Linked DNA regions of Homo sapiens. The protein of the gene in region 3 interacts with the protein of the main gene of each other region in a pairwise test. Each region holds a gene or a part of one and is shown on either strand. Other genes may lie near its edges.

Region 1 (6,444 bases), on a different chromosome or scaffold from region 3:
CCATTAACCTTATTACTGTTAGAATGTGCAGTATTAATGATGTATACAAGTCTGAATTTTCCAACTGTGAATACTTCAGCTTTGCAAATGTTTGATCTAATTTTCCTGAGTGGCAAGAGTGGGGAGGAGATGCAAATGGCTTACTGCTATTATACACTCTTCTGAGCCTTTATTACACCAGCAAAGCTACTGGGTCTGGCTGCTACCCATCTTCTGTTTATATTCCAGCTATGCCACTGTGAAAGGTTATCTATTGAACCTCCACTTCCTTATTTAGTAAACAAGAGTAAAGATGTCCATCTTGCAAAGATGTTGTGAGAATTATATATATTGCATAATATGGCTTTGCAGGTCATACTGTTTCTGTTCCAAATATTCAATTCTGCACTGTAGTGTGAAAGCAGCCCTAAACATTACATAAAAGAAAGTGCTCAGTGGCCGGGCATGGTGGCTTATGCCTGTAATCCCAGCACTTTGGGAGGCCAAGGTGGGTGGATCATGAGGTCAGGAAGATCAAGACCATCCTGGCCAACATGGTGAAACCCCATCTCTACTAAAAATACAAACAATAGCCAGGCGTGGTGGCATGCACCTATAGTCCCAGGTAGTCAGGAGGCTGAGGCAGGAGAATCACTTGAACCTGGGAGGCGGAGGTTGCAGTGAGCTGAGATCATGCTACTACACTCCAGCCTGGGTGACAGAGTGAGATTCCATCTCAAAAAAAAGAAAAAAGGAAGTGCTCAGTAAAGGGTGATTTTTCAATGAAACTTATATGCAAAAGTGACATTTATTGCAGTGTAAATAATGCATTAAATTGACAAAGACTACCAAATATGAATACTAAGGCAATGCTCAGTATTTTAGATACAACTTATTATTGCAGCCATGTGGCTCTTTGTTGAGGAGAATGACAGTCCCATATTGCTCTGGGGAGCAGTCCCGTGCCAGACAAGCTCACCCACACCCCAAAGCTCATGGCTTAAGTCCCTCATTGCAGTACCCTTTTAAACTTGGAGAGCCAAGTTGAGAGTAGGGAGGGAAGCTGTTCTTTCCTCTCTGACATTACTCTGGGTGCCACTGCTAATGTGACTGACAGGTTTGGCATACAGAGCCAAGTGCTTTTGAAGAAAATGCACTGACTTAAAGATATTTACCAGTTAAATTGCATTTCAGTGATAGAACATTCCAATCACTTTTTCCCCTGGTACTTTGATACCTAACTTAAAAATGTTTTCAACATTTAAACACACCAAGAAGTGATATAACATAGTGGTAAGAAGTACAGGCTCTGGAATGGGACTGCCAGGGTGCAAATCCTGGATCCAGATCTTGCTAGCTGTGTGATGTGACCTTGGGCGAGTCGATTAACCTCTCTGGCCTCCATGTCCTCATCGGCAAATTGGAAATAATTGTTTGCCTATAATTTGAAGTCTAGATGAACTAATACATGTATAGCATTTAACAGATAAGCACTATATAAACATTAATTATTACCTGGTTGTCAGGAAGTCTTACATAGAAAGAGTGGCATTTTGGAATTTGACGTTACTGGATTTAAAAAGAACTGGTTTGTATCCTAATGTGCTCAGAGAAATTTTAGAGCATGATGTGTGCAGTTTGGACTGGATAGACTGACCACCCTTCCTTCTGCACTCTTCCAGGAGCTGGCCCTCTTTGACCAATTCCGAGAGTGGCCTGACGGCTATGTGCGCTTCATCTACAGCAGCGATGAGAAGAAGGCACAGCGTCACCTGAGCGGCTGGGCCATGCGCAACACCAACAACCACAATGGCCACATCCTCAAGAAGTCGTGCCTGGGTGTGGTGGTGTGTACACAGGCCTGCACCCTGCCCGACGGTTCCCGCCTGCAGCTGAGGCCGGCCATCTGCGACAAGGCACGGCTGAAACAGCAGAGTGAGGACATGGGGCCAGGGAGAGGGTGACCTTGGAGTCATGAGTTTTTTGTTGTTGTTGTTTTTGTTTGTTTGTTTGAGATGGAGCCTCACTCTGTCACTCAGGCTGGACTGCAATGGTGCAATCTCAGCTCACTGCAACCTCCGCCTCCCGGGTTCAAGCGATCCTCCTGCCTCAGCCTCCCAAGTAGCTGGGATTACAGGCATGCGCCACCACGCCCGGCTAATTTTGCATTTTTAGTAGAGACAGGGTTTCTCCATGTTGGTCAGGCTGGTCTTGAACTCCCGACATCAGGTGATCTGCCTGTCTCGGCCTCCCAAAGTGCTGGGATTAGAGGCGTGAGCCACCACACCCGGCTAATTTTGTATTTTTAGTAGAGACAAGGTTTCTCCATGTTGGTCAGGCTGGTCTTGAACTCCTGACCTCAAGTGATCCACCCGCCTCGGCCTCCCAAAGTGCTGGGATTACAGGCGTGAGCCACCGCGCCCGAGCATGAGTTCTTTGTTCCCAGCTAATTTTCCCCTTCTTCCTTCAGAAGGGTCTGGGGTCAGGGTTAATATTTCTCCCTTCTGGGCTTTGCAGAGAAGGCATGCCCTAACTGTCATTCTGCTTTGGAGTTGATTCCTTGTCGAGGGCACAGCGGATACCCCGTAACCAACTTTTGGCGGCTTGATGGCAACGCGATCTTTTTTCAGGTAGGTCAGGTGAGAACACAATTTGTGATGGATACTTTTCATCAGACCACAAAGGCCAAACCACCTGTCGTGTGCCTTGGGAACCCTGGGCCAAACAAAATACAGCCCCAGTGGCCAGAAATAGGTGCTGGAGCTCCCCAGGGACCTAGCGGGAGCCTAGAAATTCACTCACTACTTTGTGCTCTTTAAGGTACACAGATGGTAAACCAAGTTATAGTTCTTTTAATAGAGTGAAGGGATTGCAGGTGATCTTTTCAGATGTCAATTCTTGAGCCTGTTTTATTTGTTCAAGAATTTTTTTTTCTGTCATTTTGAAAGAAACAAAACTAAACTCTTGAGATGTTGGGAAAGGCATGATCAATTTTTGGGCAACATTGTCAGCTTCCTTTAGAGGCACAAATGTATGATTCATTTTCTCGTTATCGCAGGCCAAGGGAGTTCATGATCATCCAAGACCAGAGAGCAAATCAGAGACAGAAGCTAGAAGAAGCGCCATCAAGAGACAAATGGCCTCTTTCTACCAACCCCAGAAAAAGAGAATTCGAGAATCCGAGGTAACAGGGAGCTGATAGTGCACAGTGGTCTCAGCTCATTTTCATCCCAAGATACGCTGATCGTTATGCAAAATATGAAGGTCATACGTTAATTACAAGGGTTTGATTTCATCTGAAAATTATACGTCTGTAACAAAATATCATTAAATCAACATTTGGACAGGGTTTCTAATCCCTTCTCCTTAAAACAAAAAGCAACAATCTCTACAGGCAATGATACAGTCCTGATATGTCAGTGTGCTGAGCTGACATCCTAATATAAGGGCGATTATGCAACAGTAATAAAGATAGAAATATGTGCCTACCAACAGGAAGTTAACAGTGCACCCTTGAGAGGGTCCTTTCCATTATTTCATCCACAAGAATGGATAAAATTTCTCTGCGCAATTTAATTCAGTTTGGCTTTTCAACCAAAGCACGCCAAGCAGGCAGAGTGTTAGTGTAAGGATAACAGAAGCTGACATTTTCCAGCACTTCCTATGTGCCAGGCACTGGTCTAAGAGTTTCACACATTTAATGGTTGCAGAAACCTTATAATGAGGTTACTGTTATTAAGTTCCATTTTTAAGATGAAGGATCTGAGGCTCAGAGAGGTTAAGTGGCTTGTACAATTTGTGAGGGACAGAGTCAGGAATTGAACCCAGGCCCGTGTGGCTCCTAAGTCTCCACTATTAGGAAGACAGTATAGGTGAGAACAGGACCATCTGCCACTCAGAAGCATCCTACCTGGCTACCATGGACCTTTGTCATTCAGTCGTTGGTATTTATGTCTGAGTGAGCCCAAGCTTAGCAACCCCTGGACCACGTGCTTACATCACGTACCTGAGCAGTGCCATGTTCACAACACAGAGCCCAGCACATGGATGTCTGTTTTTACTTACTTCTAGGCTATTGTTACAGGTGAGGGTGTCCACACGATTTACATAGCGTGTGTCTATGTTTGTATCATTTTTCTAGGCAGAAGAAAATCAAGACAGCAGTGGTCATTTCAGCAACATACCTCCCTTGGAAAATCCAGAAGACTTTGATATAGTTACTGAAACCAGCTTCCCTATTCCAGGGCAGCCTTGCCCTTCCTTCCCAAAGTCTGATGTTTACAAAGCTACCTGTGACCTAGCCACCTTTCAAGGAGACAAAATGCCACCCTTCCAGAAATACTCAAGCCCAAGAATCTATTTGCCTAGGCCACCTTGCAGCTATGAATTGGCAAACCCTGGTTATACAAATTCAAGCCCATATCCCACCCTTTATAAGGATTCCACCAGTATCCCTAATGACACAGACTGGGTTCATCTGAACACACTACAATGTAATGTCAATTCATACAGCAGCTATGAGAGAAGCTTTGATTTCACCAACAAACAGCATGGCTGGAAACCAGCTCTTGGAAAACCCAGCCTTGTGGAAAGGACTAACCATGGGCAGTTTCAGGCCATGGCCACTCGCCCTTATTATAACCCAGAGCTTCCCTGCAGGTACCTCACGACTCCACCACCAGGTGCCCCTGCCCTACAAACCGTGATCACCACCACCACTAAAGTGTCCTACCAGGCCTACCAGCCCCCTGCTATGAAATACAGTGACAGTGTGCGAGAGGTGAAGAGCCTTTCGAGCTGTAACTATGCTCCTGAAGATACTGGGATGTCTGTCTATCCAGAACCCTGGGGTCCTCCGGTGACAGTCACCAGGGCAGCCTCTCCTTCAGGGCCACCTCCTATGAAAATTGCAGGAGATTGCCGGGCCATCAGACCCACTGTGGCTATTCCCCACGAGCCAGTTTCCTCTAGGACAGATGAAGCAGAGACTTGGGATGTGTGTCTGTCTGGGCTGGGCTCCGCAGTCAGTTACTCAGACAGAGTGGGTCCCTTCTTTACCTACAACAATGAGGATTTTTGAAAGACAATCCAGGGGACATAATAGCAGTGTGCATGCAGGCAGGAGGCAGGGAAATGTGAAATGGCAATGATCTCTTATTGAGTTGGGAGATTCACCTTGTGTGCAAAGAAACACAGATAGTAGTAAAAATTCTGAGTAACTGAGAAAATAATCAGTTGGAAATGATTAGATAATATGGGAAATTTCACACAGCATTTTGAAACTGGCTACAATACATAGAAGTAGTGAGGAAAGTGTGAGTCTCTCAAATGAACAAATAAGCAAACTGTAGGAGGTTAAATACTGACCTAAGTTCACTTAGCTTATTAGCAGGAGTAGAAGTCAAGGATTCTGGTTCTTATTCTAGGACTTTTCCCATTAGAGCACCTTAGGGAATTTCACATCCCTAGAGGCTGCCAAAATAGCTTCAGGAAGAAATTTTTACAATCTTATCACCTGAGTCATTTCATGAAATTTTTGTTTAGCATTTAGAACCTGTTAAACTAGCTTCAGGAAGTAATTTTGATTGTTTTATCTCCAACGTGTGTATCTACAGCTTTTCAAAAAATCTCTAGCAATGGTAAAGTTCAGTTGTTTTTAAAAGATTCAATATTAGCTTTTCATAACATGATAGTTTCCTAACCTTTTCATAACCTTTTCATAACATGATAGTTTCCATAACAGAGACAGCCTAACAATGATGAGTTGTATTTAATGGATTACCATTGTACTAAATACATTTTTTTTCTGATTAGGTTTCAGAATTATAATTAAAATGTTTTGCTGAAATACAGCTTTACGGTTCCTCTGTTATTCTTCATAAAGGTAATTGATAATGTTCAATTAAATGTAATAAGGACATTTTAAATGAAGCTAATTCTTGCCTGACTTCAAAACAGAAATAGGAAAAAAATTGTTCATATTATGACCTGGGAAACAGTTGTTATGAAACATTAAAACTTATTAAATTGGCTGAGAGAGGTGGCTCACGCCTGTAATCCCAACACTTTGGGAGACCAAGGCAGGAGGATTGCTTGAGCCCAGGAGTTTGAGACCAGCCTGGGCAACAGGGAGAGCCCTCATCTCTGGGCAACAGAGAGAGACCCCAGGGCATGGCAGTGGGCCTGTGGTTCTAACTACTTGGGAAGCTGAGGTGGGAGGATCATTTGAACCCACGAGGTCAAGGCTGCAGTCAGCCATCTTTGTGCTACTGCACTCCAGCTTGGGCAACAGAGCAAGACCCTGTCTCAAAAAAATAAATAAATAAATAAATAAATAAAACAAGTATTAAATAGTTTGACTGTTTTGTAGTTTATTTGCAAAATACCTGCTGTTGTACTCTGTCATAACAGAAAGCCTTTTCAAAACATTTGGAGTGTTCACACACACACTTTAGTGAAAATATT
Region 2 (7,722 bases), on a different chromosome or scaffold from region 3:
ACTGGTACTGGCCGTGTGACCTTGGGCACAGTTGCTTAACCAGTGGCTTAACCACTCTGTGCCTCAATTTCTTCCTTGGTAAAATGGGGATAATAGTACTTATAGGTTATTGAAGAAGACCATGCTGGCAGAATGCTTGGCAGAATCCCTGGTGCAGAATAAGCAGTAGTTAAATATTAGCTGCTGTTATTACTGTACCACTTGTCCCTCCCTCCTTTCCCCCCTTACTGCCCCCCACCCCCCGCCCCCTGCCCCACAACACACACCAGCTGGGGCACTTCCTGCTTTAATCTTCTTCAGGAGCTTTTCTCTGACCCTTTGTATCTCTGTGACATTGGGCAAAGTATTTGAACTCCTGTGCACCTCTATTTCCTCATTCTTAAATTGAGATTAATGATTACTTGCCTACCTCACAGAATTAATAGAAGTATAAATGTTTTCTAAACAGTATGAAGTTCTGCAAACTGTAAGGTACTGTATTTTTTTGTCCTCCTTATACACAGTCCTAACCATTTCCTTTCCTCGGGAGGTGTGGGTCTTTCCTTGACTTTCTCTGGATTTCACCTGTCTCTACTGCTCACTCCCCTGGGACTCCACCCCTGTACTCACCAGTGCCCCATACAGTGAGGGGGGCTCTGGGCTATAGGGCAGGTAGCCAGGGTAGCTCTGGGCAGCTGCAGCGGCCGCATAGGGTGCTCCATAGATGCCCAAGGCGGCGCCCAGCTCCGGTCGCGCACTGCCCAGCAGTCGACTATCGTAGGGTGCGCAGCAGAGAGCGGGCGCTGGGGTGGAGCCTGATGCCACATCTGAGACAGAGCGTTGGGTAGATTCGCAGCATGTGGTGCTGGAACTTGCCGACGCCAGAAACTATAGGGGCAAGAAAGAGGGCACTGGAGGTCAGAGACCCCCCCCCCACCCCCGCCCCCGCTCCCGCTGAAGGGAGCTAGAAACAAAGAAGAGAAAATCAGATAATCAGATTGCTCCTTCATTCATTCCTTCATTATGCATTAACTAAATGCCACCTGGGCTGAGCATTCTGTTAGGTGCTGGGACGGGAATTATAAATTAACCAAACTGCCCTTATAGATGCTCCTACTCCATTGCTAAGGCCCCAGAGCCCCAGGAGGCCGGGAAAATGTGAACATTTTGAAACCGGAATTAAAGACACCAAACCCTCTGCTCCCTTCCCTACCCTCCTCCCAGGATCCTGCAAAGGCGGAGCTAGAAGGTGGCCTTAGAGACCATTATTAACGTCTCATTCCTGCTCCCATTCTATAGATTGGGAGTGGATAATCAGAGAGAGTGTGAGACTTGTCTAAGATCACACAGCAGGTCAAAGGTCGAGCCGGCACTAGACAACAGGAAAATACACTCAGAACTCTAGAGAAAAGCTGGAGAACAGTGGAGGGGGTGTCCGCAGAACTTTCCCAGGAAACCCTTGTCATTGCACAACATCCACTTTGGTTTGGAAAATCGAGGGAACCGGAGAGCTTGGGCCCGCCCAAGGAAGGGGTAGGAGAATAGCCGAGGTCAACAAATCAACAACAATATGGTGAGATGGACAGCGTTGTAGCCTACAAGTTCTTTCTTTCTCTTTCTTTTTCTTTCTTTCTTTCCTTCTTTCTTTCTTTCTCTTTCTTTCTCTCTCTCTCTCTCTCTCTCTCTCTCTCTCCTTCCTTCCTTCCTTCCTTCCTTCCTTCCTTCCTTCCTTCCTTCCTTCCTTATTTCTTTCTTTCTTTTCTTTCTTTCTTTCTCTCCCGGCCACCTCAGACTTCTGTATAGGAGGAGGCCTGACTGGGAGATCCCTGTGATCCCACCCACCTCACTGAGCGCGTGGTCAGAGTGCTCATGTTTCAGGTCACAAGATTTTCCAGCGTGCACTCCGGGGTGAAACGTTCTCATTTAGGGACTGGGGATGTCAGAGGAGGCTGTGACACATTACCCTGGTCCTTGCTCCTTCTGGCTTCCCCCAGAACACAAGAGGAGGATGATCAGAGGCAGGCGCCGTGCACTAGGCACTCCCTCCACCCAGTCTGTCCCCTATCCCCCATAGAGGCGCCTCTTACCTGGGAAGCGCCGCGGTACGGGTGTCCAAAGTGTGGGAAGGACATGGTGGCTGTCCCTGGCCCGTCTCTCTCTTCCCTGTCGAGTTCCCGTCTCAGCCCAGCTGTTCCGCGCCCCCAGCAGTGAGGTGTCTCAGTTCCTTACACCGCTGCGGATGCCCAGCGCCGGTTCCTTCGCCTGGTTGGCCCCAGTGGAGGCAGAGCCGAGGGCAGCCCGGCTGCCGAGCCCTGCGCTCCGGAAGGCGCCCCTCCGGCCCGTGGGGTCCGGAAGACAGAAGGGCCCATGGATGGGCAGGGGAAGGAAGAAGATGCGGGTTCCCAAAGGCGCGTGGTGGCGAGGTGAGGCGCGGCGCGGCGCGGGGCTGTGAGGCTCCGGAGGTGTCCCAGTCCAAGGTGGCCAGAGGCTCAATGTGACGTCACGGTAATCCCGGGCCGCCAGACGGGACCCCGGGCCCCGGGACCCTGGGCCACCAAGCGTGCCAAGCGCAGCCAGCCCGTGCGCGCGCGCGCACTCTCACCCACACTCACACTTGCTCCGGGAGGTTTGTGCAGCTGGCGAGGAACGTCAAAAACCCTGACCCTCTCTGCTCGGCGCTGAATCCTACCCCTTTTCGCCTGGAGCTCACGCGCGCGCGCACACACACACAACCTCTCCAAATTACCCGGGAGAAGTAGGAGAAACGCCTCCCTCTGAGCCGCGCAGGCCCCGGGCGCAGCGCGCTCACCTCCTCCCCTGCGGCCCGGAGGAGGCGAGAGGCAACCGGGGCGGCGAGGGAGGAGAGAATACAAAAGAAGAGACAGGAGAAAAGTGGGGGAGAAAGGCAAGAGGGAGAAGGAGGAGGGGAGAGGGGAGACAGGAGTCTGAGTGAACAGAGGCGCGTGGGGGAGGGGGAGGGAGCTGGGGTGGGCGAAGGCTGGGCGGAGGCTGAGCACTGGCAGGTGGAGGAGAGCAGAGGCCCGGGGGAGAAGCCTCCAGCCCGGTTCCTCCGCCCCTGCGCTGAAGTAAAGTTTGTTCACGCCACAGGCCCGGCTCTCGTTGGAGCAGCTCCGGGCAGCGTCGGTGGATCCCACTGGCCCGCCCATCTTTGTCCTCGGGGATCTGGTTCCCCGCCTCAGCCTCCCCAGGACTCGGGCTAGATTCCGGCTCTCCAAGCCCTGGCCTGGCCCAGGGCCTTGACCTTGGAGCTTCTCTGCAGCTGCCTGGTCCTCGAGTAGGCCGGATAGCGCCCCCTCGAGGCCGAGGTTCGGGATCCCTCAGATTCCGTCGGGAAACTCGCCAGGTCCGATCCCTGGCAGCCGCAGGCTGCTTGCTAAGATCCCTGGGCATCTCCTCCGAAGGCAAGGCTTGGCTGCCTCGCGCGCGCGCCTCCCGCAGTGGCCGCGGGGCAGCCAGGGAGCCTGAAGAAGGCTCCCGGTCCGGGCTGCAGCCCCTGCGCTCCGCTGGGGGTGGCGCTGGAGAGCCGCAGTGGAGCGCTCCGGGAGGGCGGCCCATTCCCTGCGCTCCTCCTGGACGCCCGGCTGGGCCCAGCGGTCTGACCACCCCCTCACTCCATCCCAGGGGTCTTCAAAGGGGCACTGATGGGTGGGCGGCGGCAGGGGTGGGGGAGGCTCGTTGGTACCCAGGAAGGGGCTGCCTCCTCTAGGCCTGGCCCCGAGACATGGAACCTCCAATTTGCGAGCACGGTAGACTGCACATCTGAAGGCTCAGTACTCTGGCCCCAGCTGCCCTTCTGAGAGCCTCCAACCCGCGACGTCTAGGGGTGAAAAGGGACTGTCGGTCTGGTAGGGGAAGGTCTTCGGTGGGCACTGCAGGAATCCAGTGGGATTTGCAGGCCAGAAACCTCAGAAAGCCTTGCCTTTCACTTACCGGGGTCACCGCGCTTTATACTTTTAAAAGCGCTTTATACTTTTAAAGTTGCACCAGGCTCTTGCTGCAACTCCTCCAAGGAGCCATAGGGGTTGGTTCAAGGGCCCAGTTTTATTTTCTAGTTGAAACGCGAGAGCCTGTGGCCCAGAAGATAGCAACGGCTCTGGGTTCTTGTATGAGGCGGGGCAAGGTCTGGGGTCCTGGACGGGGCGTACCTCAACTCCAAGTTTGCCACTAGCACCTTACACTGATCTCTTTAGCATGACATCTCTAGGTCCCCACACCCCGTTTTAAAAACACATTCTGCAGAATGCTCAAGGAGCTTAAGCCACAAACCAGAGACTCCTCTGCTTAAGAGATTGTTAACATGAGGACAAGCTCCATTCTAAATACTAACAAACACAGCTACTGCTGCTGCTGCTGCTGCTGTTACCTTGGAGAAACCTTGCGTTCATCCAGGGAAACTCCTAGTTAGAAAAAGAATTATAGTCCTCACCAGATTGACTTAGTGATAAAAATTCACAGTAATAGATAGATCCCTTGATTTTTCAAAATGCACTTTGGAACTATCCACACATTTGCAGCTTGGATACATCTATGCTATTTTTTTAAAGTAAGAATTGGAGAGTATTCATTAAATTCATCCCTTGGGGAAGATTACTGCTAATTAATTAATTGCAAACATTTCCAGAGGGAAGGTATGTCAATTGTAAAGTAATAAAATTAGATAGTAGAAATACTGACTCAGCAACTTCGATTGCCCATTTGTTCCTAAGCAGAATTTTTTTTAAAAATTTTATGACAGAAAAATGGGGCTGGTGGTGGAGAAAAAGCATTAGCCCTGTCCCTTGGCGATATGGTTGCAAAGGAGAAACTACCATATAGGAATTATTGATTTTTAGCTGATTTATAAGACCTCTGTTTTATCAATGCTGTGTGCAGGGCCTCCAGGCCTACTTCTTGTCTTTGCTCTCTAGGATTTGAGAAAAGCAACACAATTTTTTAAAAAGAAAAGAGGATGTTGAGGAACAGTGGGGAAGAAAATTGGGAAGTAGGACTATGAAGATATCTTGGCATTTTTCTTCTTCTGGAAAGACAAGCGAACAAACAAAAGAGCAGGTTTTATGTTAAGACACCTTTTCTATTGTCCTCAAAGTTGCTTGATGGTTTTTTGCAGCTTCTATCAGAATACTTCCCAGGGAGGAAGGCCTGCCATGTCTCCTCCGGCTTCCCAGCCTTGCAAGACCTTGATTTAACATTTCCTTCCCAGGGAGAGGCTGCACCCACGGTAAACCTCCCCTGTTTTGCTGACATTTGATTGTTACCACCTTGAGCATTTAATGGGGTTTCCTAAAAATGGTTTTTATGAAATGTGCCTACTCTTCTTGTTATTTTGGGACCCTCGTAACAAAACAATGCCAGTGGGTTAAGCCAATATCAACCTCTGTCTGGCAGAAACCTCAGGTGAGAAGATGTCTGTTTCTTGGAAAATCTGATTGAGGGGAAGCTGCAGTGGAATTTGCTTTTGTCCTCCTGACGGTTCACAGACTCCCACTTCAGCAGCCTTGGGCTTCTCCACCCCGGCAGCTTTTCATTGCTTTGTTCAGCACTGATTAATTTAGTTTCGGAGAAAAAGCCCCAATTGTATATGTGTACACATAGAATTTTATTGAAGCAAGTAAATAAATCCATCAAATATAGACCCTCCCAGTTATATTTAAGGGAGTCATTCCACCTAAAGTATTTTAAACAAATGATAGAGATTCTTTTGTTGTACTGTGCAACATGCCTGATAGTTCCTCTAGCTGCTCATTAAAACAAATGTGAAACAAATTAAACAATCAAAAGCCTATGTGTACCAGAGAGTACTAATCCACATTGTTTATTTGAAGCTCTTATTGCTTTGCTTCAAATGCACTGAAGTTCCTGAGCAGGCGGAGTAAAGTATGTATGTTTCACAATAAGCTTGCATGCAGGTACCACAAAAAACAAACAAACAATAAAAGAGGAAAAACAAACTGTATTTCATTATTTTGGGTTAAAAAAGTCTATGATTTTCTAATGATTTATAAAGACAGCAGATTTTACAGGGGGAAATATAACAACCTGGAAATGCCCCAAATCAACTTCAAATGCCTCAAATCCCAGATGGAATGAGCGAGTACACGAACATAATAACAGAGTTGAAGATGTGCTAAATTATATTTTTTAAGTATGGATTTTTTAGTGACTGTTTTTGAACTGAGAAGAATGAAATTTCCTCAAATCTATGCATGAATGAACAAGTGCATCTGGACAGATGCATCTATAATTTATACTGATCAGTCACCGCAGGTCTCATGGAGTAAAGCCGAAATGAACACTAATTGTTTTGACGGAAGTAGTGTGCATGGCATCTGATTGTGAAATGCAGTGAGTCCCTGCCTTGCCTGAATACATATTGTCAACAGCAACTCTGGCATCAGGAGGGGAAAATAAAAAGACAATAATTCCCAGATGAGAGTGTTGAAGCCTCTTGTCAAAAAGGTGCCAAATAGAAAGAAAGAATTAACTTCTTCGGGATAAAGTAAAAAATAAGACTGAATGAAGAGGTCTTGGTTTGACAGCATTGTACTTCAGTTTAGAGTTAAAATTAATAAAGTGTGTTAATAATAGTAAAATTCTGTAGCATTTGTTGAGTGCTTGGGAGCTTTCCTAAACACCTCTGCTTTATCTTATTTAAGGCTCATGATAAGGATATTGGAGAGGTGAGAAGCAAGTCTAAGATCACACAGCCAAGTAAGTGGCAGAGGAAGGATCAGACTTCAGACCTCCTGATTCTGGGTCTTTTCACAGAACCATATTTCAAACATATAGAAAGCCAATCACAGCCAGGAGATATTGCTAACTCCAGTTGGACTGTGTGAATTCACATAGTGTGTGCCATGATGATGCAGTATAATTTAGCAGAGAAAAAATCTTAAAGAGATGTCACTGTAAGAAAATTAAGTTCAGGGTCTATACCCCCTGTTTGATGTGACTGTGTATTATGAAAGAGCTTATGTAGTAATTGGGAGTTTTAGAAATTTGGTGCGAATCATTAATTGAATGGCAAAGAGCAAACAGACCCAGCCATGACTGATAAAAACATACAAAAAACCAAAATAGCACCACTCCCCTGCCGAAAAAAAAATCTTCAAAAAAAAAAAATTCCAGCCAAAAGATAATGTCTCTATTTCTACAATGGTTTAAAAACAACTCCTTGAAATTAGTTACGGACTATTTTCAGGAAGAGGAATTTTTAAAAAATCTGGTTTTGGCATCAGCAGGTGGGGAGATTTGCTGCATTAACTTCTCATTTTCAAAGCAGTTTTTATGTATAAAAATTCTTGATTATTTTTATCCTGTAGATGACGGCATCTTTCTAATGAAAAGCTCAAGGCATCTGATGTGTTTTCAAGGAATTAAACTTTAAAGTAAACAACAGATGTATGGATTTGAAAACCAGGGAACAATTTTTGAAGCCTAAGTCTTTCGAAAAGAAATGCATGTAAGAAATTAAGACTTTAAAGGAATAACACATAGGGACTCACCGGGATAAGATGCTATGCCCCTTTCTCCCTATGTGATAGGACCTAGAAATGGTCCTTCAGTATACAATTAGGAAATAGAATCATGGCCTAGACAATCAAGAAAGGGAGCCATGGTGTTGCTGGCTTCAGCTACAGGAGGGGCTGTATGTTGTTGCAAACAGCCCTCTAACTGAAGCATTGCTAACATGGAGTTTATAAGGATATTTTGTCATCTTCCCCC
Region 3 (3,175 bases):
TCAATGTTTGGAGAACTGCTCATCACCCAGGTCTGGAAACCTCACTCCCAAGGTTATTAGCACATCCAGTAGTAGGTAGAAAAAGAGGAGGAAGACTCACGAAACTGATTCTGCTCACGGGTTATAGCAATGACCTTGGCTGGGGCAGAGGTAAAAACTCATCTGAAATAAGGTTCCTGGAGTATTTATCATCCTGTTTCTCTCTTCTAGGCAAGGAGTTTCCAAACCTAGCCCAGGGCCAATGCCTGGAGCTCTTGTTTGAAATGCAGATTCCTGAACGCCAGCCCCAAAGATTCTGATCCAACAGGTACGGGGTATACCCACGAATCTGTATGTCTAGCAAGGGTCCCCTGTTCCAGGTGATCCTGACTTAGGGGATCCAAGAACCAGTATTTGGGAATAACCACTCTAACACACCCTGTCTCCATATATGATTGTCATTCACTGACAATTGGTGGTGCCTCAGATGAGAAGCCCGTGTAACTAACAGCCAGCATGTTCCTAGGCTCCCACACGGATGCACCTATGTGTCATGGGGCATGTGTCTCTGAGATCTGCCCCCCAGCCACTTCACACCGTCCTTGTAGCACACATGCACATTACACCAATTCAGTTCAGCAAATGTTTATTGGGCACCTACAATAGGCAAGGCACAGTACCAGCTGCTGTGGGTTACAAAGACAAGAAGGCTAGGCCTCACCCTCGAGAGGCTTACAGTCTAATAGGGAGAGACACACTCACAGGTAACAAAAATACAAGGCAAAATGAGGTGAGCTCTATGGCAGAGGCAAAAACAACGGGAGAACAGCGAGCAGAGATAGATCAGACATATCTCAGCAGATCAGATGTTGGATGCAGGGAGTGACGTTTCAGCCAGGCTCTGGGAGGTGGGTCGGATTCGCACAGGTGAACTGGAAAAAAGAGGACACTAAGGCACAGGCAAGGTATAGAGGTGGGAAAGTGCAATGAATGTTCAGAGAACAGAGATGCCTGCCTTGACCAATACATAGGAGGCCAACAGGATAACAGAGGGACCTAAGCTGGGGAAGTGGTTTCAGGCCAGATGGTGTGATCGCTCGTAGTAGGATTTCTTTCTTTCTTTCTTTCTTTCTTTTTTTTCAAATGAAACAAAGCCTTGATCTACCACCCAGGCTGGAGTGCAATGCCACAATCATAATTCACTGCAGCCTCAACCTCCTGAGATCAAGCGATCCTCCTCTAAGTAGTTGGGACTATAGGCACAGGCCACCATGCCCAGCTAATTTTGTGTGCATGACTATTTTTTGTAGAGACAGGCTCTCACTTTGTTGCACAAGCTGGTCTCGAACTCCTGACCTCAAGCGATCCTCTTACCTTGGCCTCCAAAAGGGCTGAGATTATAGGCTTAAACTACCACACCCAGTTATAGTGAGGAGAATTGACTTCATTCCACTGGTAATGGTGAACCATTGAAGGTTTCTGAGCAGAGGAGTGACATGACTTCATTTCCACAAGTCTGGGCACACTGCTGTTTGTAATACATGATTAGCTTTATTCTTTTTGTTAACCTTACTCTATGGCTTACACCCCATCCTGGTCTCAAAGCAGAAGTGTGAACCTGAGCCCTGTGGCCACACATACTTTCCAGGCTTCACAAAGCAGGAAGCAGTGGCCTTAGCTAGGTAAACTCTGAGCTCATTTAACAGCTTTGCACCTTCTCCACAGAAAAGGAAGTGAGGCTTTCCAGAACGATTTGAGAATAAGAGGCAGGGCACAAGGATGGTACTTAACAAACTTCTGTCACCTAAGCATGGCAAGAATAAGCTGCAGAGAAAATGGGAGTGCAGAAGAAAATGGTGGAGAGATGCAAATGATCTAACTAGCATCATCCAAACTGAACCCTCTCCCAGTATGACTTCTGTAATAACCCACCTCCACCTCCAGCTAGTGGGAAGGGAGATTCCACAGTCTGACTCACTAGATCAGTTGATGGGGTTTCTAAGCACTCTACACATGGAAGGATCGCTGTGCAAAGAGGCTCCTAGGATCCTGCTTAACCATCCAGTGAGGAAGGAGAATGGTGCCCACCCGCTCCTGGGCCACCCCAGCCCGCGAAGGGATGCGAGGCCACTGCTGTCCAGGTGGACACAGCAATGCTGGTTAGCGAGGGCTCCCCCAGAACCTCCACACCAGCCGAAGTGGGTGCTTGGGTGGAGAGCACAGAAGGGGGTGAAGTCACAGCTGGGTTTCCGAGGAGAAATGCTCCTGGGGTGCTGGCGTGCACCTCCGGGCCTGGCCCACTGGGGCCTCCGGCACCATTGCTGATGGTCCACAGGCACGGGTAGGGGCTGCAGAGACAGAGAAAGAGGGGAAGGGAATGTTCACTGGCACTCCAAGGAAGGAGTGCCACCTGACAAGCATGTACACAGTGCTGAGAAGGGCATGGTTACAGGAGGGCTTCTGGCCATGGCTTTATTTCTAGCTATGACGCAGATTGGTCCTGTTTCTGCAGAAAAGCTAAGAGAAGCAGCAAAGTATGGTGGAATAATGATAAGATTAAGTATTCTGGTACTGGCCCGGCCACCAGCGAATTATTTGGTTTTAGACACAGAATTTCATTTATCTGGGCTCCCTTGCAGCCTATGTAAAATTGGCAGGGCAGTAGAAAAAAAGGTATTAAAACTGTATGATTTCTGCATATGATCTCTCCCTGGCCAATGTGGCATAATAACCAGGAAACATCACTGTCAGAAGACTTAAGTTTAAATCCCAGCTCTACCACTTAATTAGCTCTGTGGCCTTGGCTAGATTATTTAATATCTCTGAGTGTCAATTTCTCATCTTCAAGATGTGGATTCATAATTTTACCTACCTTACAGAGATTGCTACAAGGATTAAATAAGAGGAGTATATGGTCCTTAGCATGTAGTACTCAGTAAATGGTGGTTGTTAACATTAATTCTTCCATTCCTGGTCTCCGCCTGTGAGCTCTGGTGCCTGGCTGAAAGGCTGGGAGCTACAACATTTTCTTTGCCTTCTCTAGTTCTGTAGCACAGGTTCACACACTTGATTGCACATTCGGCACATTGGAATCACTAGGGGGGGTTTTTAAAGTAATATTGGTGCCTGGATCCCACTCTCACCCCACTCCCCTGCCCCAGAGATTCTGATTGAACTGATCTGGCATGCAGCCTGA

What was found.
Region 1: the proteins of TBX19 (region 3) and GCM2 interact in binary tests that used the Homo sapiens proteins (3 or more experiments, as listed by UniProt).
Region 2: the proteins of TBX19 (region 3) and IRX6 interact in binary tests that used the Homo sapiens proteins (3 or more experiments, as listed by UniProt).

The regions. Positions count from the first base shown.
Region 1 is NC_000006.12:10,872,610-10,879,053, reverse strand, and holds the end of GCM2 (chorion-specific transcription factor GCMb), read left to right. Parts: intron 1-1,661; coding exon 1,662-1,914; intron 1,915-2,496; coding exon 2,497-2,609; intron 2,610-3,037; coding exon 3,038-3,163; intron 3,164-4,120; coding exon 4,121-5,059; 3' UTR 5,060-5,831; downstream 5,832-6,444. UniProt on the Homo sapiens protein: Transcription factor that binds specific sequences on gene promoters and activate their transcription. Through the regulation of gene transcription, may play a role in parathyroid gland development.
Region 2 is NC_000016.10:55,319,481-55,327,202, reverse strand, and holds the start of IRX6 (iroquois-class homeodomain protein IRX-6), read right to left. Parts: upstream 3,001-7,722; 5' UTR 2,112-3,000; coding exon 2,067-2,111; intron 868-2,066; coding exon 610-867; intron 1-609. UniProt on the Homo sapiens protein: Transcription factor. Binds to the iroquois binding site (IBS) motif of target genes to regulate gene expression; functions as a transcriptional activator or repressor. Modulates expression of RCVRN, VSX1, BHLHE22/BHLHB5 and TACR3/Nk3r.
Region 3 is NC_000001.11:168,311,860-168,315,034, reverse strand, and holds the end of TBX19 (T-box transcription factor TBX19), read right to left. Parts: intron 2,328-3,175; coding exon 2,033-2,327; 3' UTR 609-2,032; downstream 1-608. UniProt on the Homo sapiens protein: Transcriptional regulator involved in developmental processes. Can activate POMC gene expression and repress the alpha glycoprotein subunit and thyroid-stimulating hormone beta promoters.